6 linked regions of the Homo sapiens genome follow. The protein of the gene in region 5 purifies or fractionates together with the protein of the main gene of each other region. This does not show direct contact. Each region holds a gene or a part of one and is shown on either strand. Other genes may lie near its edges.

Region 1 (2,629 bases), on a different chromosome or scaffold from region 5:
CCAGCCTGACCAACATGGCGAAACCCCATCTCTACTAAAAAATATGAAAATTAGCTGGATGTGGTGGTGCTTGCCTGTAATCCCACCTACTCAGGAGGCTGAGACAGGAGAATCGCTTGAACCTGGGAGACATAGCTTGCAGTGAGCTGAGATTGCACCACTGTACTCCAGCACTTTGGGAGGCCAAGGAGGGAGGGTCACTTGAGGTGAGGAGTTCCACATCAGCGTGGCCAACATGGTGAAACCCCGTCTCTACTAAAAATATGAAAATTAGCCAAGGGTGATGGCATGCGCCTGTAATCTCAGCTGCTCAGGAGGCTGAGGCAGGAGAATTGCTTGAACCTGGGAGATGGAGGTTGCAGTAAGCTGAGATCACACCACTGCACTCCAGCCTGGGTGAAGAGTGAGACTGTCTCAAAACAACTATATAAAACAACTATATAAAGAGCTATATGCTGAAGAGAAGAATCCCCAAACAATTCTACCTAAAATCTAAGCTATTTTAAAAGCTTTAACAAATGTAGGGGACTGGGTAATGTTGTACTAGAGCTTGTTTCTGAGATTAGCCCATGTACATTGGTAGAGTGTAGCCTTTGTGGCTCACCTGTTTTTACTTTGCAATGTCTGCTCCCACAGGTGGGCTCGGTGGTGGCCGTGGGCTGGATCCGCTCCCGCAAGGCTGTGGACTGGCGCCTCTTTCGGAACATCTTCGTGGCCTGGTTCGTGACCGTCCCTGTGGCTGGGCTGTTCAGCGCTGCTGTCATGGCTCTTCTCATGTATGGGATCCTTCCATATGTGTGATTTGTCTTCTTCCAGCTGCAAACAGCTAAAGGGATGGTCTGGTGTTGGCGTGTGGGAGACATGTGTGCTCGTGCCGCACATACACATCCTGGCCGTGCACGGCTCTCTCATGACCAGCTCTCTGCCTCCCTTCCAGGAGGCTCCATCCCACACTGTTCACCCAGGCTGCGGAGACTCACCTTCCCGAGCTAACTTAACTACTGTACATAATAATATGTATTAAACTGGTATCGTGGTGATATAATGTGGTGCAGTTACTTATATATTAAATATCTATTGTATCCATAGAATAGGCAGCATTATTTCAAACATATTCAAGTTGGGAGTGGAGATCATTGCCTAGAAGTCAATATTCAATAAATCTTGTACATAACTATTTCGATGGCAAATGTTAAGCCTTCTAAAAGGAAAGTGTAGATTGGAAAATGATTTTTTTTCCAAATGATGTTTTTGCCTTCTAATATACTGTAAGGTAATGAGCTTCAGAACAGGCAACCTGACCCTGCAGAGGTCGCGTGCTGTGGGATGACAGCGGGACGGGAGCTCACAAGTGCTTTCACTGAAGATTTGTTCATATACTGTGTATTGATTGTTGTGTAATATATCATCATTGCTTTTGTAAATACGTAAAACTGTAATTTTTTAATGGTGTGCTTCCCTTATACTTTTTTGATCAGAGAATTTTGGAAAGTACCAAAGAAGCAGGGGAATCATTGGCCAGTGTTACGTTTTCACATTGTCTGTCTCCCACCCTCACTGATCACGCCTGCCCCAGAGCAGTGTGTGGCGGTGACACCGTCACCCAGCATGCGCCACGCCGTGGCTCCCACCAGCAGTGCCACCGCCACCACACCCCAGATCCCACCCACCTTGCAGTGGCCTTTCCTTGTCATCAGAGTAGAGAATGCACAGGTGTTGGTGAGGGCGTGTGGCTGAGCACTACATGTCAAGTCCAGAGTCAGTTTCTATCCCAATTCTCCCTGCAGCCTGAAGAACGGATCCTTGTCTCCAATGTCAGCACAAAGGAGGCTTTTTCTGTGCTTTGACATTCTAGCACTTCAGGGATGAGAGGGAGGGAGAATCCTGGATGCTGGATGGAGTATTTCTCTGAGGCCCACACAAAGCTGGACACCCCCAGGCTCTACTCCATCCCATTGGAGTCTCTTCTTTTTTTGATAGCGGGAGGGAGGAAGTACGACTAATGTTGGAGCCTGAAACTATGGAAATGCTGCTAAAATTTTTATATTGACAAACATTTTCTTGGTACTTCATTGTCATTTTTCATTAATCAACCATATTAAATTTATAATAAAAAATGCCCCTCAGAAGTTTGCCTCTGAAGCCTTTTTCTCAATATTGACAATTTTTCTTTCAGAGTGAGTTTCCACAAAAACCAAAGCTATATAATTTGGCCCTTGTATTTTTCACATACCTTTTTTTGGTTTCCCTTATTTGACTACTGTTACGGGCTTGTACAGAAAACACAGGTGAGCAGGAAAGGGAGGCACGGCGTCCCCGCCCCGCATTCAGAAACCCGCAGTCAGCAGCTCATGGAGCAGTCGGTTGCCATGTTCAGGGCTGAGGACCCAGCAGGGAAGTGCAGGTCTTATCCTTTGCTCAAGCAGCCAAAAACACCCTGGCTTGCATATTCTGGAGCCCCCAGAGGGAAACCCCTTAATCCTCTGTAGCGGTGGTGGCACAAGCTCCGACTCCCTTAGGAGCTGTGAAGGTGACAGATGAGGCAAAGTGGCAGGTGTGAAAAATGCATCTTGTGGCCGGGCACGGTGGCTCACGCCTGTAATCCCAACACTTTGTGAGGCTGAGGTGG
Region 2 (4,222 bases), on a different chromosome or scaffold from region 5:
AGAAACACCCAAGAATGATCAATAAATACTGAAAAAAATTAAAAAAAAAAAGAATTAGGGAACTTGAGAAGAGATTAATAGAATTTACACAATCTGAACAACACAGAGAAAAGAAACAGGGAAAGAGCCTAAGGAAATTATGAAACACCAACATAAGATCCAACTTTCTTAACACTGGAAATCCAAATGGAGAGAAGAGAGTGGGAGCAACTCTCCATTATTTCAACAACAACAAAGAGTAGTTGAAGAAATAATGGCTAAAAACTCCCTAAATTTATTCGAAAACCAAAAAAAAAAAAAAAAACAAAACCAAACATGAAATCCAAAGAAATCCATGATAAGACACATCATAATTAAACTTCTGAAAACTAAAGACAAAGTAAAAACTTGAAAGCAGCCAGAGAGAAATGACACATTATCTACAGGGGAACATCAATCTGAGTGACAGCAGCATCCTAATCAGAAACCATGGACACAAGAAGGAAGCAGCACAAGATTTTTCAAGTGCTAAGAAAAGAATGGCAGGCTAGCAGCCATGGCTCACGCCTTAATCCTAACACTCTGGGAGGATGACACAGGAGGATCACTTGAGACCAGTTGGGCAATATAGCAAGATGCTGTCTCTTCAAAAAAAATTTTTTTTAATTAGCCAGGCATGGTGGTATGTGCCTATAGTCCCAGCTACATGGGTGGATTGCCTGGGCCCAACAGATCAAAGCTGTAATGAGCTACGATCGCATCACTAACTCCAGCCAGGAGAACAGAGTGAGACCCTGTCTCAAAAAAAAAAAAAAGGAAGAACAATAGAAAAAGGGGAAATATGCGTATGTGGTATATGCAATACACTATCTTTATCATCATGAGTTTTATAAACCATATTTGATGACTGACACAAAAACTGTAACACCATCTGATACCCAGGACATGATACTTAAAGTGAGGACCTAAGTGAAAGAAGGGTTTCCACACTTGACTGGAAGTGGTGAAATACAGCAATACACCATGGTGATAAGTCACATTTGTATATTGTAATACCCAGAGCAAGCACTGTAAAAACTATACCAACACCTAATCTCAAACACACTATAGGGATACCAAAAAAGTGTCCAAGTAACCCAAAAAGTGGCAAAAAAAAAAAAAAAAAGAAACAGGAATCAGAATGAGAATCAGAAGAAACAGAACACAGATAATAAATGGCACACTTATATTCTAACATATCAGTAATTATCGTAAATGTAAATGGTGTAAATATGCCAATCAAAAGAGAATGGCATAGTTGATAAAAAATATAAGATCCAACAAGAAACTCACTTCAAATTCAACATAGGTAAGTTGAAAGCTAATACCATGCAAACATTAATCCAAAAAAAAGCATAAATGGCGACATCAATATCTAATAAAGATTTTAGAGCAAAGAAAATTACCAGAGACAGAGGAACATTAACAATGAAAGGAACAATCCACCGAGATGACAAAAAATCTTGAATGTGCGTGCACCACATGACAGTGCTTCAAAGTACATGAGGCAAAAATGGATTCAATCTGTGATGGAAACCTATTTTGAAACAGGTGGCACATTTCCAACTAAAGAACTCCTAAAATTAAACAGATTTACTAACACAATTACTGTTATAGGTAACACCAGAACCCACTTCCAACCAAGCACTGAAAAAAGGGCACCTTACACATGTTCTACTGTAATCTCCAATAATCCCGTAAGAAAAAATATTATCCAGCATTTTACAGATGAGGAAACCATGGCTTGAGTTTAAATAAGTTACCCGAGAGTAAATCGCTAGTGGGTAAACACTCAAATCAGCGTTATAACATTCCAGTATGTACTTTGAGCTATATGTTAGTCTCTCAAATGGCCGAAAACAAAAATTATTCAAAAACTCAAATTCTGAAGCAACTACATATTGAGTGAAATTATGTTTTCGACAATTCCTCTGGAATAAAACTTCAAAAACTATAAGAAGCAACACTTTTTAAAATTTTCTTTTCTTTGAATGAGAAATGTTAAATATGAGCTAAATGCAATCTCGAGTATGAAAGGTCTGTACACTAATTCTACTGCTAACCTGTGACCCCACTAAACAAGTTAACCGTTCTCAATACCCCATTTCCCTTTCGTAAAAGCAAAATTACTTGTCGACAAAAAGCACTTTGTATATATATGTTTAAACAAAAAGTGTGCCTAGCAAAGATATCGAAATGTCGAAGAGAAGTCATTTCAATAAGAAGTGTGTTTTTAACAAAGCAATTAAAAGTTACATCCGTCACCTTCACAATTCACAGGGCTACAAGAACAAGTTTCGGAGACTCTGAAGTATCCGAGAAGTTAGCACTTTTGATCCCCGTTTACTTTAGGAGAGCAGCCACCCCTCAACACTGGACCGCGGTTCTCTGCTCCCGTTCTGGCTCCTACGCTCGGCCCAGGCGTCCCGGGGATGCAGCCGCTCGCCCCGGCAGCTGCCCGCGGCCCTCACCACCGGCGGACGCCACAGCTGCGGCGCGCTCAGAACGCCAAGGACTCCCGGCTCCCAGCGAACAGATGGGGCGCGCCGGTAGCGACCCCAGACCCGCCCGGCTCCGGGTTCCTGCGGTGGGCTGGGGGCCCCGGGGAGCGTCGGCGGGGAACGGGGCCAGTGCCGCCTCGGTTACCTGCTGTGCCGGTCGGCTCCCGGCCTGGGCCCCGCGGCGCTGTAGTAGGCCGCGCGTTTGCGGTTGGCTGCGGCCGCCGCTGCGCTACGCACCGGGTAAAGCGGGATCTGGTCCGCCATGTTCCGACCGCCCCTTTCCCGCCCCTCCCACTTTCCCCTCAATTCGCCACCTTTTCCCCGCCCTCTCCCCTCAGCGCCAACCCCGGCTGAGGCGCCGCCTGCGGGCCTTCCCCGCCTCCGCCAAGCGGCGAGGTCCGATGACGTAACGAGCGGCGGCGCGGAAGGTGTGGCGTCCCTAGGCCCCGCCCTCGTTTGGCGTCGGCGCACGATGACGTGCCCAGGGTGGCAAAAGCGCGGCGCAGGAGGCAGTGGAGTCCGGGCAATGACGTCACGAGTGGCTAAAGCTGGGACGGGGGGCGTCGCGTTCCGAGGCCCCGCCCCCGCCTCGTGACGGGCCCGATGACGTCACCGATCGGCGGGGCGGGGCGCGCGTGCGCCACAGGCTGGCCTTCCGGTAGCGCGCGAGGGCCTGCACGTGGGTCGTGGTTCGACCCGGCGCGCTCTGGTCCGCGGGTGGAAGGGCCTCGCAGCCGTCTCCTGGAAGCTCTGCCGGGGACACGCGTGGGCGCGCGCGGCCTCCTTAGCGGTCCAGAGCCTGCGCTGCCAGTAGTACGCGCGCCCCATGGCTGTGTGGGGCCCCACGCGCCCTCCTCGCCGCGCGGCTTCTTGCTTCCGCCCCGCGCTTCTCCAGCCTGCCTTCGGTGCCCGCTTCCTGCCCGCGCCCTTGGAACCGCTGGTGTCTGTGCGTTCACAGGCAGGGTCGTGCTACGTGGCCCGGGCCCCCAAAGCGCCGCGACTGCAGGCGCGCCCACCGCGCCGGGCTGAATTTCCGAGATGTTCTTGTCCTGCTTCCTCACTGCTGCTTCCTTCTTTCTCTGGTTCTGGGTCTTTAGCTTGATTCCACATCCCCCACCTCTAGGCCCACAGCCTGCTGAAAAGTCCTATAGGCGACTGTCAGAAACGAGGTTTACACCCTCAGTCTACACAAGAAAGCAAAACGATATTGAATAAACGAATACACGGCTTTGGTTGGGTTTGTTTCATTTCCTGTCCCGAGGACAGCTCCCTTCCACCTCCATCACCCGCTGCAGCTGGAAGCCGGCAAGCTGATGCACCGCTCACCTCACGTATTAATGGTTTACTCACTTTGTGTTTTTTTAAACAATGTTTTTCTGATATTCCATTTTCATGACATATAAATTTTGTCTATGTGTTTGAAACACTGTTCAACATGAACTTATAAATGCTTTTCTTTTCTGTTTTTTGGAGATGGGGTCTCTGTTACCCAGGCTGGAGTGTAATGTTTTGATCACGGCTCACTACATCTTCCACCTCTCAAGGTTCAGGTGATCTTCCCCCATCTGCATGTATTACTTTTTCATTATAAAAAATGGTCTTTATGAATATGAATATTCTTAATTTGTTGCTGCCACTCTGATTGCCAGTTTGCTTCTCAGCTGCTTTTCATGTAACCTGAATACATGCCACTCCACAGACAC
Region 3 (3,500 bases), on a different chromosome or scaffold from region 5:
TAGCAAACATTTTTCAGCCTTGAATCAGAAAAAAACATTGCAGCAACCACAGGGAGAATTCATTATATTTTTAGGAATGTGTTTTTCCTTCTTTTCTTTGACGTGATTTGTATGATGTTGTTGAGTCTGGACTTTTTATAATGCTGGTCTCTCAATTAACTGAGATGAGAACTGATTTAGTAACGGTAAGCACCGTTGCCAAAGACCTGCTGGCAACAGCAATTTTCTCAGGCATTTCTATTTCCTGGGGTGGTAACTGTTACAAAAGAAGCTTTTTCAGACCAGGTTTGGACTGTGAGTTCAAGATGGAGAGCATCTCCTATAATTGCCTGTCTTGGCCTGGTATAGAGTGACTTTCTTTCAGAAGTTTGAGGTGGAAGATCCAGCTGGTTATGCTGAAAGTACTGTTGAGTGGATTCTAATTCCTTGGGAGGTCTTTCGAGTGCTTTTTCCTATAATAGTCCATTTCAGTGAATGAATAGATATTAGGCATTTGGCCCATTCTAGAATTCTAAAAGTTGGAAGGGTCCTTCAGTTACCTTTTTTTCTCATAGGAAAAACAAAATGTGACTGGGTTGAGTATTGAATAATGTTCTTTATGTTCTTATGCCTCTACTGGAAACAAGTGGGATTTTTCATTAGTTTGTTCACATTAGTATGTTAAGGCTTTCGGACACTCAGTACTAGTAATTCTGAAACAGAATCACAAAAGAATAATACTGCACAGTATCTTGGGGATGGGGGAAAAAGCTTGGTGCAATTTTCATATAGAGGATTTTACAATGTTCTACCCCCCCCCCGAAATTAACATTTAAGGGAAAGCCAAGTTTTCTTGCTAGCCAGATACATTGCAGGATTTTTGGGTAATTTTGTCCTTATTTTGGCAATTCCAATCGAAAGCTTGTTTTTCTTCTCCCTCTAATTTCATCTTTCAAGCTCTATACTACATAATGTTTTTTTAAAAGTAAAGGTTGTTTTCAGAAGTAAAAGCAGTCTCTCTTCTGTAGCTCAATAGTGGCATACCAGCCAGCTGGAGACAACAGTCACACCTTTGATGTCACAGCGATGTTCAAGTCTATTGGGATCTTCCTTGGAATCTTCAGTGGATCTTTTGCAATGGGTGCTGCTACTGGAGTGGTGACAGCTTTAATATCCTTTTGTTATATTTATCTTTTCTTGTTAACATAATATAGTAGTTGAATGCTGTATTCCGTTGTTTTTCCTAGTTCTATGATTAGAATTATGTTAGAATTATTAATCTTATAACTAAGTACTTGGTTTGAAAACATTAAGCAACAGTCTTTGCCAATAAATAAATAAAAGAACTGTATTGTTCTGCATAGGGTTTGGTGCCCTAAAACTTTCACTGCAAGTGTATAATTAGAGATGATATCTCTCTGAGGGTGAATTTTATAGTTGTAGATTAAATAGCTGTAAAGGTAGACATATTCCAAAGAGCCTCTGGGTGTTCTGTGTTGCTGGTCAGCCTGGCAGTCTTTTGCTCTTTGTTTAATAGGACAAATAGGAAATGTACAACAGCGACGCCGAATGAACAAAATGTGTTTCCTTGGTTAGGATATGTAAGAGTTCATCTCAGCTCTCCCGATTTTAAACTTTGTGCTCTAGAGCCCTGGACGGGAAGCCCAAAGGACCTGAGTTGTAGTCCTGGTACTACCACTTAGTCAAGTTATTCTTGTGTTCATGCAAAGGCCATTTTATCCCGGACTTCACCACCATGCAATATATCCATGTCATAAAACTGCACTTGTGCATCCTGAATCTATAAAAACAAATTTTATTTTTATTTATTTATTTGTTTTTTTGAGACGGAGTCTCACTCTTTCGCCCAGGCTGGAGTGCAATGGCACGATCTCGGCTCACTGCAACCTCCGCCTCCCGAGTTCAAGCGATTCCCCCGCCTCAGCCTCCCAAGTAGCTGGGATTACAGGTGCGCAACACCACACCCAGCAAGTTTTTTTATATTTTTAGTAGAGATGGGGTTTCATCATGTCGGCCAGGCTGATCTCGAACTCCTGACGTCAAGTGATCCACCCACCTCGGCCTCCCAAAGTGCTGGGATTACAGGCATGAGCCACCGTGCCCGGCCTAAAAACATGTTTTAAACCCCCCACCCAAAACAAAAAGCCAGAAGGCATGTCTGGATCACCTGCTACATGTGCTGTGCTCTGTGTATCAAAGCTAAAGAAGACAAACATGACCTCTGCCTCCCTGGTGCTTTCGATATAGTGGCAGACACAAACATGCTAGAAGCTTTGACACTTCACCTCTTTGGATCTCAGTGTAGGAAATTGGAGGGTGGGGACGGTAGGAAAGAGGAGTGGGACTAGATGATGTCTAAAGAGTTTCCAGCTCTGGCCTGGTGCAGTGGCTCGTGCCTGTAATCCTAGCACTTTGGGAGGCCATGGCGGGCGGATCACAAGGTCGGGAGATCGAGACCATCCTGGCCAACACGGTGAAACCCCGTCTCTACTAAAAATTCAAAAAATTAGCCGGGCATGGTGGTGGGCGCCTGTAGTCCCAGCTACTCGGGAGGCTGAAGCGGGAGAATGGCATGAACCCAGGAGGCGGAGCTTGCAGTGAGCCGAGATGGTGCCACTGCACTCCAGCCTGGGCGACAGTGCGAGACTCCGTCTCAAAAAAACAAAACAAAACAAAAAAGTTTCCAGCTCTAAAACTTCTATGATACTTGTATAAAACAGATACGTTATTCTTTGTCAAGGACTTCTTAGTTTGGTATACTTCAGCCTTGTGCTGGAAGAGGCTTCTTTTATGGCTTTTTATAAGTGAACTGAGGCATAAAGCAGCAGTAAAAAGAGTTCTGAAGGTGATGCCAAGAGTGATAGTATCTCTTCCCCATTACAAGTTCCTTGAGGGTAGAAAGTATATCTTGTTAATCATTTTGTTGTAGTGCCTAGTTGTAGAAATGACTCTAGATTCTAGCCTGAGATTGGTCGTAACTTGGCACAGGCCCTTCCACTGTCAGCTAACAAATACTTGTTAAACTAGTATAAAGCAGTGAAGTGCCTCAATTTCTTCATCATGGAATGAATGCTCTATATCATAGAAGTGGTAGAGGATCAAATTCGTGTAAAATCTCTTGGAAATTATGTATTTTTATAAATGTAAATTGCTACAATTATGGAAGCTGTCTAGCTTTGGGTCTCAGATTAATAGAGGTGGCATGTTATAGATCTGATCTGTTACTCCCGTCTCTATCTATCCTTTACTGCATGGTTTCTGGCAAGGTGTGTGATACCCGTGAAACAATTGGAGTGGCTAAGCCGTAAGGCTTCCTCACTGAAGGGAAGGCAGCTGACTCCTCAGTAAGATGCTCATTTTAAAAGTCTCCCTATTCTGGTGGTACCTTATTCTGAGATTTCTGTGTTAGAGAAGCTAGAGAACCTTTCTTTCATGGTTGCCTTGCTTAAACTGTTATTTTTTCTAGTCACACTTTTGTGTTACAAGATCTCATTACTAGC
Region 4 (3,500 bases), on a different chromosome or scaffold from region 5:
AAGTAATATATGTTTTTTCTTTGTCTTCAGGATTTTCTCTTTATCTTTTGTTTTCAGCAGCTTGAATATCATATGTGTAGGTGAGGGTTTTTGTTTTCTTTTTGTTTTTATATTTACTCTTCTTGGAATTCTCTAAGATTCTTGGAGATAGATTATATATTATATATATATGTATTTTTTTTTTGAGACAGAGTTTTGCTTTGTCACCATGCTGGAGTGCAGTGGCGCGATCTTGGCTCACTGCAGCCTCCGCCTCCCAGGTTCAAGCAATTCTCCTGCCTCAGCCTCCTGAGTAGCTGGGACTACAGGAGCGCACCACCATGCCCAGCTAATTTTTGTATTTTTTTAGAAGAGACGGGGTTTCACCATGTTGGCCAGGATGGTCTTGATCTCTTGACCTTGTGATCTGCCTGCCTTGGCCTCCGGAAGTGTTGGAATTACAGGTGTGAGCCACTGCACCCGGCCTTTTTTTTTTTTTTTTTTTTGAGAAGGAGTTTTCCTCTTGCTGTCCAGACAGGAGTGCAATGGCGTGATCTCGGCTCACTGCAACCTCCAGTTCCTGGGTTCCAGCGATTCTCCTGCCTCGGCCTCGCGAGTAGCTGGGATTACAGGCGTGTGCCACCATGCCTGACTAATTTTATATTTTTAGTAGAGACCCTGTTTCACCATGTTGGTCATGCTGGTCTTGAACTCCTGGCCTCAGGTTACTTGGATCTATATTTTGATGTCTCTTATTAATTTTGGAAATTTCTTGGCCATTATATCTTGAAATATTTCTTCTGCCCATTCTCTCTCTTCTTTTGGTATTCTAATTATGCATATGTTTGATACTTTGATGTGTCCCGCAGCTCTTGGATGTTATGTTACATTGTTGATATTGGGGGTTTTTTGTTTTGTTTCGTTATTTAAACTTTTCTGCGTTTTAGTTTAGCTAATTTCTGTTTATCTGTCTTTTTGAGTTCATCGATTCTTTCTTTGGCTTTCAGGTCTAGTAATGATCCTATCGAAGGCATTCATCATCTCTGTTACTGTGTTTTTCACTTTTAGCATTCCTTATTTGATTTTTTCTTACAGTTTCCATTTCTTTGTTTTACTTTCTATGTGAATTTTTATCTATATTCTTCCCAGATAGCAGCCATACTGGGCAAGATTTGGATTCCCTTAGTTTTTTCTTATGTCTCTTTTGCATATCTTAGGTTTGGAAAAACCTTTTCACCCAGAAATCACCAAGAGCTCTCCAAAATAGGACGTTGGTGCACTCAAGCTAGCTCTAGAAAGCAGGAAATGACAGGAGAGTCACAGACTGGTTGCATTGTAGAGCAAAGAGCTGCTGGGTGTATCCATCAACCTGATTGATTTTCTCAGGGTCAGTGGTCACCTAAGTCTATTCTTTCTTTCCTTATCTACTTCAGAAGACCATCAAAATATTTACTCATGTTAAACCTAAACAAAATGAATATGGGTTACTTTTACATATCTTGTGTTCTTGAATAAGTCATAGGTCCTGGATTTTGGCAGTTTGGTAACGTAAGGTTTATAGAACTTCACAAGGGCCCATTTTTCTGTCAGTTCCAAAACAAGAAACTTCCTGAGTCCTTCATCTAAAATATATTGTCTCGGCTGGGTGCAGTGGCTCGTGCCTGTTATCCCAGCACTTTGGGAGGCTGAGGCGGATGGATCACCTGAGGTTAGGACTTCGAGACCAGCCTGACCAATATGGTGAAACCCTGTCTCTACTAAAAATGCAAAAATTAGCCAGGCGTGGTGGCATGCACCTGTAATCCCAGCTACTCAGGAGGCTGAGATAAGAGAATTGCTTGAACCCAGGAGGTGGAGGTTGTAGTGAGCTGAGATTGCACCACTGCACTCCAGCCTGGGCGACAGAGTGAAACTCTGTCTCAAAAAAAAAAAAAAAAATGTCTCTATCTGGCCACAGTCACAAATGTTTGTTCATTTGTTCATTCATTCATTCAAATGTTTTGTAAGCCTGCTATCTCAGCGTTACTACATTCCATTCAGATTACACTGATGAACAAGATGTCTTTCCTCCAGGAGCTAGAGAGATTCCTACTTCACTAATACAAGAGTGTGGTTAGTACTCTAATGGAGGTGCAACATGCTATGGGACACAGAGGGTGTAGTATTTCATTTGGGCTAGGGGAGATTGGTTAGTGCTTTCTGGAAAAGGTAGCATTGTAACTGGGTTTTAAAAAATTATTAGGATCTTGACAGGCAAAGAGGTGGATGGCCATTCTAAGCTAAGTAAACAGCTTATGTAAAGGCACTAATTCATGAAGCATTTGGTAAACAATTTATGTTCTATTCCTTTGAGAGCCTGGTTCATTTTCTTCTCTTACTCCGGTTATTAGACTTACTATTTGTTGTTGTCCTTTCTCTTTTTCTGGCTATTTTTACCTCCTTTGTTTTCCTATAGTTCCTCATGGTAGATCTTATGGCATTAGTTTTATAGTCTAGGACACAGAGATGAAGGATCACCTGTATTGCCTCCAAGTGGAAGTGCAGGGCAACATTATTTCTCTATTTAACCTGTGTTTCAGTGTGTGTACTTAGAATAGTAAAGTGAATCTTGCATGAATGTAGGCCCTGCCCACAGGGCAGATGACTCCATACTAGAACATAGTGGAATAGACAAAAACCTTCTACAGCATGTATGAGACACTTGGCCCATCGACCCTCTTCATGCCCTTTACATTCAGCACCCTCATATTGACTTCTCTCTCCTCTTTCCTACCAAGCAAGGGAGTACTGTTCAAAGACGCAAATGCATTCTGCCCTAGTTTCTTTTTATTGCTAAAAACATTTATCTTTACCCTACAACCTACTTTTCTATTTATTTTCAACATTTAGCAGGTTGTTTAAAAAGGGACCAAAAAATAAAACAGGACCATCTTCCTTGTTTCAGGGACTGGTAGGCAGGCATTAAGGTTAAGGTAGGGGTTAAGACCAGATCCTATTTTGCAGTCTGCCTGGGAGGTGAAAAACCTGGGAAGAAGACCGCTGGTAGCATATGTATGGAAAGGAGACAGGCTGCCCTTACATCTTTTCAGGAGGAAAAACTGCCAGGGGGAGCCAGGCATATATGGAGAAGAATCCTTAATGGTTTATACTCTTGGGAAGTCCTGTACCCAGCCAGTTATTTGCTTTGACTTGGCTGTTTAAGGTCTGGTTCTGGTCTTTTTTTTTCCCCCTAACCAAGACAAATGAGGCTCAATTAAGGAAAAGGGACATAAGATACCTATTCCAAAACTGAATTCCTTTTAACTCTCATGAAATGACAAATAGAATTGTTAGTATATGTGAGCACTGAGAATTACTTTATTGATGAACACTGGTATTTTCTCTGGTGTAGGAAGCTGAACCATCTATCTCCAGAAATGTCTTCAGAAAGTAAAGAGCAACATAACGTTTCACCCAGAGACTCAGCTGAAGGAAATGACAGTTATCCATCTGGGATCCATCTGGAACTTCAAAGGGAATCA
Region 5 (4,183 bases):
ATGGCCCAGTAAACCATGACAGCAGCAGCTCTCCCTCTCCAGCCCCATCACAGTGCCACGGCCCATGTTCTCTCCCTGAAGCTGCTCCATTAGCTTTCAGACTGAGAATCTTAAAAGCTGTGTGGGCCGGGCAAGATGGCTCACGTCTGTAATCCCAGCATCCCAGCACTTTGGGAGGCCGAGGCGGGCAGATTACGAGGTCAGGATTTCAAGACCAGCCTGACCAATATGGTGAAACCCCGTCTCTACTAACAATACAAAAATTAACCAGGCATGGTGGTGCGCGCCTGTAGTCCCAGCTACTCGGGAGCCTGAGGCAGGAGAATTGCTTGAACACGGGAGATGGAGGTTGCAGTGAGCCAAGATCGCGCCACTGCACTACAGCCTGGGCGACAGAGCGAGACTCTGTTTCAAAGAAAAGAAAAAAAGCTGTGTGACCCTGAGGATTCTACCATTTACTGAACAAGCTCCCACTGCCAGGTTACATGATAATTTAACATGTATGTTTTCATTTAATCCCTATGACATAGATTTTATTATTATTTTCATTTTACTGACCAGAAAACTGAGGTTCAGAGATGTAAGCTATTTGCCTACGGTCCCAAAGCCAATAGTTGATGCGTATGGATGTGAACTGAGGTTAGCTCCAGGCTCAAGGTCTCTGCTAATACTGTCCTTAGTAAGGTTTCTCTGAAGAGCCTCTTTACTCATAGGCTGATTAGCAAAGGGTTCCTAAATATGCTTAAGAATCAATAACCATTAAAAATCCCTCACCCTACAAGAAACTCCCCATCAAAAAACTGGATCAGTGAAATGAACAGGCAATACACAGAAATGGAAGTACCCGTAAGAAAAATAGTTTACTACCCTAGTAATCAAAGAAAAACAAAATTACACGGGTGTATTCCTTTTGGCTTATCAGATTGGAAAATATTTTTCTAAAAAGAAAAATGTAATTATCTTGTAATGACTACACTAAAAATCTAGGGCATAATTGACTTAATTTACTCCAAATGTGTTGCTATTGCGTCCATAGCACGGACTTGCCCATTTCAACTCAATATATGTTACGCTTGGGGTAGTTTATTACAATGAGCAATAAACATTCTCATAATCGCCAAGACAAGCCAAGTGCAAAACAGGAAGGGCGAAGACAGAGGGCAGCAGGTGGTCCCTCTCGCTCGCGACTCCGGGAACGCCAAGCCTCAGCCCTTGGGAACCTGGGGCGAGGCGCCTGGGTCTCGGCCAGGGGGCGCGCCCGAGGACGCCGAAGTAGGGCGCGTGTGGGGACCACAACTCCCAGGCGCCCGCGCGCCGCCTCGCCCGGACCACGTGATCCGTGCGGCCAGGGTAGCTATCGCGGCGGCGGCGGCGGCGGCGGTTGAACTGACTCGGAGCGAGGAGACCCGAGCGAGCAGACGCGGCCCTGGCGCCCGCCCTGCGCACTCACCATGGCGGTAAGGGCCGGGCGCTACGGTGAAGAGGGTGGGCGGTTGGGGCGGGGTCTCCTGGAGCTGCCATCTCGGCACCCCGAATCCTCGCTGCCGCTGGCCCGGGGCTGGTGAAGGGTGTGTTGGCAGCATTGCCAACAGCTGGAACAGGGTTGGGGGACGCGGCAGGTATAGGTTGCGGTGGCTCTGTGGTTTTCCTCTTTATTTGTCCCTCCTGCTGGGAGGCAGTCCGGCTAGGCGAGCAGTTACCGAGCGCCCGCGGTGGCGCGGCTTGAGAGTGGGGGCGCGGTGGCTGAAGACAGCTGGGTCCGGGGCCCCCGGCCCCGGACCTCTGGCCGGCGCCCCAGGGCGGAGAGCAGCGCCTTGGGAGATTCCAGGAAGGCTTCCACGAAAGGGAAACCCCCGGCGCATTTCAGCCCGCAGCCCCGCGCGCACACCGAGCGCACATCCCCGGCCCTGCTCTTGTCAAGTTTGTAGCCTGATTCTTCGGGGAATAAAACAGAACCAGCTACTTTCCAGCTTCCCTACACTTTCAGTCAGAAAACAGCGTTTCAGACAAGCTGTTTTTCTTGGTAGGGTTCACCTGGGCTGGAGAGAACGACAGCTTGCAAGACTCGTTCGTCTTTGAAGAAGTCATATCATTTTCTTCATCCCATGAAGAATGTCATAGAATTTAAGATACAGGAAGCTCAGCCTGGGCAACATAGCTAGACCCCGTCTCTACAAAAATTAGCCACAAGTGGTGGCAGGCGCCTGTAATCCCAGCTACTCGGAGGCTGAGGCAGGATGAGGAGGATTGCTTGAGCCCAGAAGTTCCAGGCTGCAGTGAGCCATGACCTTCGGCCTGGGCAACAGAACAAGACGTCCTCAAACAAACAAAACAAAAAAAAAAAGATATAGGAAGTGTATGTAGGCCATTTAGTGAAATGATCAGCCGTCCTTTAAAAAGGGAAATAGATGGAAAGCACTTGCAAAAGTTCCCCAGCCAGTCAGCCTAGCAACTGGGACCTTCATCTCCTTCCCAACCCTTGTTTACAAATAAGGAAGCTTTTCTCAAAGTGTAAGTAACCCCAAATGAAGAAATATAGAAGAAAACAAGTTCCAGGGATTGCTCCCTCCTTCACCACAGCCCCACCCTGAAAAAAGCACAAATCAGTTAAACTTTCAGAGGCCAAGATTCATCCCAAGTAGGAAAACAAGATTGGGGCCCTGCCCCTTGCCTATCTGACCACAAAGCCCTTTAATTGAAAACTGTAGCCCAGATCGCTTCTCTCAAGTCAGGGTGTGCTGACTTCCATCTTTTCCTCTAGCAAAAAGGCAAAAGTAGAAAGGGTTGAGTGACAGGTGAGTCTTCGTCCCTCTGGGGCTTCGGACTCCGTGGGTGTTTCCAGCTCTGAACAAACCATACAGTTCATCTTCCCAGCTATCTCCTGCTTCTCTGGCTTCAGAACCATCCTAGCCAACTGCTCTCTGGCCAGGGCAGGTGTCTCTCAGGCGGCTTGGTCCCCAGCACCCCCAGGGAGCCTCCACTGTGCCTCCCTTTCTCTGACCTACAACCTGTTGTAATTATTTGCTCACTTAAATGTCCCCCCTCATAGACAGGTAGCTCCCTAAGGGCCAAAGACTTGTCCCATTCATCTCTGTATCGCCAGGGTCTGCACAGACCTAGCACAACAAAAAGAAATCTTTCAAATTACTCTTACTGTTCTGTGGGTGTTCAGGTCTATGGCAAAACATGTCTGGGCTGTTTTGGGCTCCTAAGATAACTGGCCCAGGCCCAAGGATGATAGAAGGAAACCAGTTATGGCAACTCCCTGACTGATTAATTAGCCACTAGGGACATTCCATTCATACCATCTGCTTTACCAAATGGACTCAGAGAAGGGGTGATGGGTGTCACCCCTACCTCTACCTGGCAGAGATGGTGCTAGAGGCTTCTGCTGAGGATGAGGCCATCTCCGGTGTAAATGGAGTTTCACAGTATTGTTTGTACCTGTTTGGTTTTGTATATCAATCTTGCGTAAACATTTTGCTGTGTCAAAATGTTTTTTTTTTTTTTGAAAGCCTAACAGGAGAGATCTCTGAGTAGTAAGACTCAAAATGATTTTTTACTTTCTTTTCGGTACTGTGTCAGCTTTTTACATTGAGCTAGTGCCATTGGGGGTGGGGGGTAAAAGCTATTCTTATTTTTAAACTCTTCAACATTTTTTAAAGTCTTCAACATGATCTTTATCATGTTGTGATGTGACCGCCTAGATTTCCATTTTGAAGCTCTCATATAATTTACTTGACCAGTCCCTACTGGTTGACAGGAGACCATCATGGTTCCTATGATTTCTCAAAGTGTGACCCCCAACAAACACCTGTCCTAGAAACACCTGTCCCAGAAACACCCAGTACACTAAGGTTTGAGAACCAGTACAGGCTTTCCAGAAAACTCTCTGGCTCTGGGTACCTGATTGCCGAGTGACCATGGGGAGATAAGTGGGCTTTTATGTACCTTCCTTGTTAAAGAGGTTAATAATAGTAGGCACCTGCGGAGATGTCACAGGGAGTGACACATAATAAATGGAAGGTGAACGTGGTACAGGCACATGCAGTCCCTCAGAAGACACAGAGCTGTGTGGCTGTTCTGTCCAATCAGATGCTTTCACATTTCTTTCTCTGTCCTGCAGCTCCACGGTCTCCAGTGAGCCCAGTCCCTGGGTAGGCGCAGGCAGGGGTTGGTGACA
Region 6 (3,500 bases), 7.9 Mb from region 5:
ACAGGCAACTCAAACTCAGCATGTTTAAATCTGTCCTCAAAATCGTACCCCTCACCCCCGGCTTTTTCAGTACTTTATCTCTGGTTCACCGAATGATACCAATGCCCTGGTTGTGGAAACTGGAGACTCGAGTCCTGTAGGGAACCTGCCTCTCACTCTTCTATATCTAGTCACCACATCTTGCCTCTTTGACCTTCTCAACGTCACTGCCAGCACTCCGGTTCAAGCCTCTGTCATCTCCAGCCCAGTACCTTGGTTACAGATCTCTCCGTAACTGTTCATGCTCCCTTCTAATTTTTCTTCGTATTGCAGTCTTGGTGATCTTTGAAAAATCCCAAGCTAATTGTGTTCCTCTCCTACTTAAAACCCTTTAATGGTTTCCCATTGCTCTTAGGACAAAGACCAGAACCCTTGACCCTGGACAACAAGACCCTGTGTGTGGCTGTTCTCCATCTCTCTATAGGGTCACCTTGTGGTGTGCTTTTCTTTGCTCATTGCACTGCAGCCTCACAGATTCTTCAGTTGGTTGTATTCCTTCCTCTTAGAGGGCTTTTGCATATGTGGTTCACTTGTCTAGGAGGCTCTTTGCTTTGCTCCCTGGCTTTTGGCTGGTTGCTTTAAGTTTCAGTCTGAAAGTCACTTCCTTGGAAAAGCCTTTTCTGATCCCTTCAAACTAGGCCATGTCTCCTCATTAAACTCTCATAGCCTTATGTGTTTTCCCTGTGAGCACTTAAAGCAGTAAACACGTAATTTTACAGTTAATATTAATGTCTAGACTAGGTGGCGGCAAACTACAGCCCATGGGCCAAATCTGACCTGCTACCTGTTTTTTATGGCTTACGAGCTAAGAATGGTCTTTACGTTTTTAAGTGGTTGAAACAAATCAAAAGAATATGATTTCATGAGAAATTTATTTAATAAATTATGAAATTTTAATTTCATTCACAAGGTTTTATTGGGACACAGTCATATTAATTCATTTACTTGTCTATAGCTGCTTTCATATGACAGTGTCAGAGTTGAGTAGTTGTGACAGAGGCCTTATGGCCTGCAAGCATAAATATTTACTCTGTGTCCCTTTACAGAAAATGTTTGCTGACCCTTGCTCTAGGCTGAGTTGATGAAGAGAGGGGCCGTGTTTGCTTTGTTTATTGCCATCTTGGTGCTTAGCTGGTACCAATACATGGTAGGTACTCATGAAATATTTGAATGAATTAACAGATATTCTGTTTCCCTCCATGGATAGAGGTGATTGAACTCCTACCTTAGAACACTGGGGTTTTAAAATTCATTATAAGAATTTTAAAACGATTCTTCTTTGGAAGACTCTTAACAGCATGTTCAGGGCTCTCTTAAGCAGCTTGTCTGTTGAAGGTATACATGTCACGTATGGAGCAAGTATACTTATAAAGGTGTAAGTTACTGGGTCAAGGTGGACAGGAAAGGGCTAGTGCGCTCAAGTAATGGACCAGTCAGATTTACAGTGGTGATGTTTTTATAGCAGGCACAAATGGGTGAGACTTTATGGCAAGCGTTGTAAAGAAAACGTGTTTGAGCTGGTGAAAAATTTAAGTCATTAAAGAGTTAGACATTGTTATCTCTGCTGTGGGAATTCACTCTGTGAAGATGGTTAAAGTTTTTGACACAGTAATATTTCCTCCTTTTTGATACTTTTTGTTTTCTAATTTATTTGGAATATAGCATAGCATAATGTTCCAATTTTGAATTTATGCATTGTGTAAAATTTAGTAATTTTTTTGGCAATTTAAAAAACAGATTTACATTTTTCAGTATGTTTTATTATACTCAATAGAGGGATGCCAGTTTTTCCCCTCTGGGGGACTCCTTTGTAATTGTATAATATGATAATGTTGTATAATAGGATTCATTTAACAAACATTTGGTTGATAAACCCCTGGAATTTATTTTTTTGTGAAAATATTATTATTCCTTTTAGTTACTCTCTACAATATCCCACAACCAGATATTTAGACTTATTTAGTAGGAAAACCCTTAAAAGCAACTTTTATTCAAATTTTTAAGGTTGCCAGAAATGCTGAAAATTATTAAATGGAAGTGTTTGACTTCTGGATATGTTTATAATATGTAAAGTAAAAAAACCAGCAGGAAGATGGAAAAATTGGAAACATGATTACTTCAAGATATTTAAGTAGCAGGGAAGGTATTAAAGTTTGTTTGTTTTTGTAGATTTGTGATAATATAATCATGATTATGATCTCAGAAAATTCTTCATTTTGAACTACTTATGATGTTACAGCTATAAGAAATAAAAAAGGCTGGGTTTGGTGGCTCACACGTATAATCCCAACACTTTGGGAGGCTGAGGCAGGAGGATTACTTGAAGCCAGGAGTTCTAGACCATCCTGGGCAATATAGTGAGACCCATCTCTACAAAAAATAGCAAAACAAATTAGCCAGGTATGGTGTCGTGTGCTTTTGGTCTCAGCTACTCAGGAGGCTGAGGTGGGAGGAAGATCTCTTGAGTCTGGGAGGTTGAGGCTGCATTGAGCTATGATCGTGCCTGTATTCCGGCCTGGGTGGCAGAGCCAGACCCTGTCTTTATTTTTTTTTGAGACAGAGTCTCGCTCTGTTGCCCAGGCTGGAGTGCAGTGACACAATCTCAGCTCACTGCAATCTCCGCCTCCCGGGTTTAAGCGATTCTCCTGCCTCAGCCTCCAAGTAGCTTGGACTACAGGTACCCGCCACCACACCTGGCTAATTTTATGTATTTTTAGTAGAGATGAGGTTTCTATGTTGGCCAGGCTGGTCTCGAACTCCTGACCTTGTGATCTGCCTGCCTCGGCCTCCCAAAGTGCTGGGATTATAGGCGTGAGCCACTGTGCCTGGCTGAGACCCTGTCTTAAACAAAGAAACAAACAAATAATAATAATAAAAAAAACCCTTAAATCCAAATAGCTAAAACATTAAGGAAAATTGATTATCTCCTATAGGTCAAGGGGTAGGGTAGCTTTCAGGTTGGTTAGTTCAGTGGCTTGATGTCAGCAAGGACGTAAGTTCTCTCCTTGTTTCTTTTTTGTCATTTTACGGAAGGTAGCTTTTTCTTAATTAGCTCCCCTCAAGATCCCAAGATGGCTATGGCTCTTCTTACCGTCTTTTGCTGAGCTGACAATCTCCAGTGGTTTTCCTTTCATGGGAATTAGAGAGGGCTGCACACTTATCCCTAAACAAGCTCTAACAAGAGGAAGGCAAAGGACTCTGCAATTGATTTAGAGTAACCAGGACTTCCCTCTGAGTCAAGTGAGGGGCAGGGCAACACCGGAACAAAAGGAGGACTTTGCCAGCAAGGTGGCGGCAGGGATGCAGGATTGGGCGTGGTGACTGGGTAGGCAGCCAATACTATCTGCTATGGTTTTGCCATTTTCTTTTGTCTTTAAATCAGACTTCTATAGTGTTTCCTAACATTTTACTTATAGCCCCATTATGAACTTCACAGTTCGTAGTTCAAAGTCACACAGTTA

Evidence for each region.
Region 1: the proteins of SLC31A2 (region 5) and SLC20A2 purify together in Homo sapiens (affinity purification with mass spectrometry; one large-scale study listed by BioGRID and IntAct). This does not show direct contact.
Region 2: the proteins of SLC31A2 (region 5) and ATP9B purify together in Homo sapiens (affinity purification with mass spectrometry; one large-scale study listed by BioGRID and IntAct). This does not show direct contact.
Region 3: the proteins of SLC31A2 (region 5) and SLC9A6 purify together in Homo sapiens (affinity purification with mass spectrometry; one large-scale study listed by BioGRID and IntAct). This does not show direct contact.
Region 4: the proteins of SLC31A2 (region 5) and SLC26A2 purify together in Homo sapiens (affinity purification with mass spectrometry; one large-scale study listed by BioGRID and IntAct). This does not show direct contact.
Region 6: the proteins of SLC31A2 (region 5) and SLC44A1 purify together in Homo sapiens (affinity purification with mass spectrometry; one large-scale study listed by BioGRID and IntAct). This does not show direct contact.

Annotation. Positions count from the first base shown.
Region 1 is NC_000008.11:42,415,975-42,418,603, reverse strand, and holds the end of SLC20A2 (sodium-dependent phosphate transporter 2), read left to right. Parts: intron 1-636; coding exon 637-801; 3' UTR 802-2,129; downstream 2,130-2,629. UniProt on the Homo sapiens protein: Sodium-phosphate symporter which preferentially transports the monovalent form of phosphate with a stoichiometry of two sodium ions per phosphate ion.
Region 2 is NC_000018.10:79,067,972-79,072,193, reverse strand, and holds the start of ATP9B (probable phospholipid-transporting ATPase IIB), read right to left. Parts: upstream 2,801-4,222; 5' UTR 2,784-2,800; coding exon 2,665-2,783; intron 1-2,664.
Region 3 is NC_000023.11:136,009,435-136,012,934, forward strand, and holds part of SLC9A6 (sodium/hydrogen exchanger 6), read left to right. Parts: intron 1-1,007; coding exon 1,008-1,149; intron 1,150-3,500. UniProt on the Homo sapiens protein: Endosomal Na(+), K(+)/H(+) antiporter. Mediates the electroneutral exchange of endosomal luminal H(+) for a cytosolic Na(+) or K(+).
Region 4 is NC_000005.10:149,974,258-149,977,757, forward strand, and holds part of SLC26A2 (sulfate transporter), read left to right. Parts: intron 1-3,370; 5' UTR 3,371-3,395; coding exon 3,396-3,500. UniProt on the Homo sapiens protein: Sulfate transporter which mediates sulfate uptake into chondrocytes in order to maintain adequate sulfation of proteoglycans which is needed for cartilage development.
Region 5 is NC_000009.12:113,149,624-113,153,806, forward strand, and holds the start of SLC31A2 (protein SLC31A2), read left to right. Parts: upstream 1-1,383; 5' UTR 1,384-1,451; coding exon 1,452-1,457; intron 1,458-4,183. UniProt on the Homo sapiens protein: Does not function as a copper(1+) importer in vivo. However, in vitro functions as a low-affinity copper(1+) importer.
Region 6 is NC_000009.12:105,251,151-105,254,650, forward strand, and holds part of SLC44A1 (choline transporter-like protein 1), read left to right. Parts: intron 1-3,500.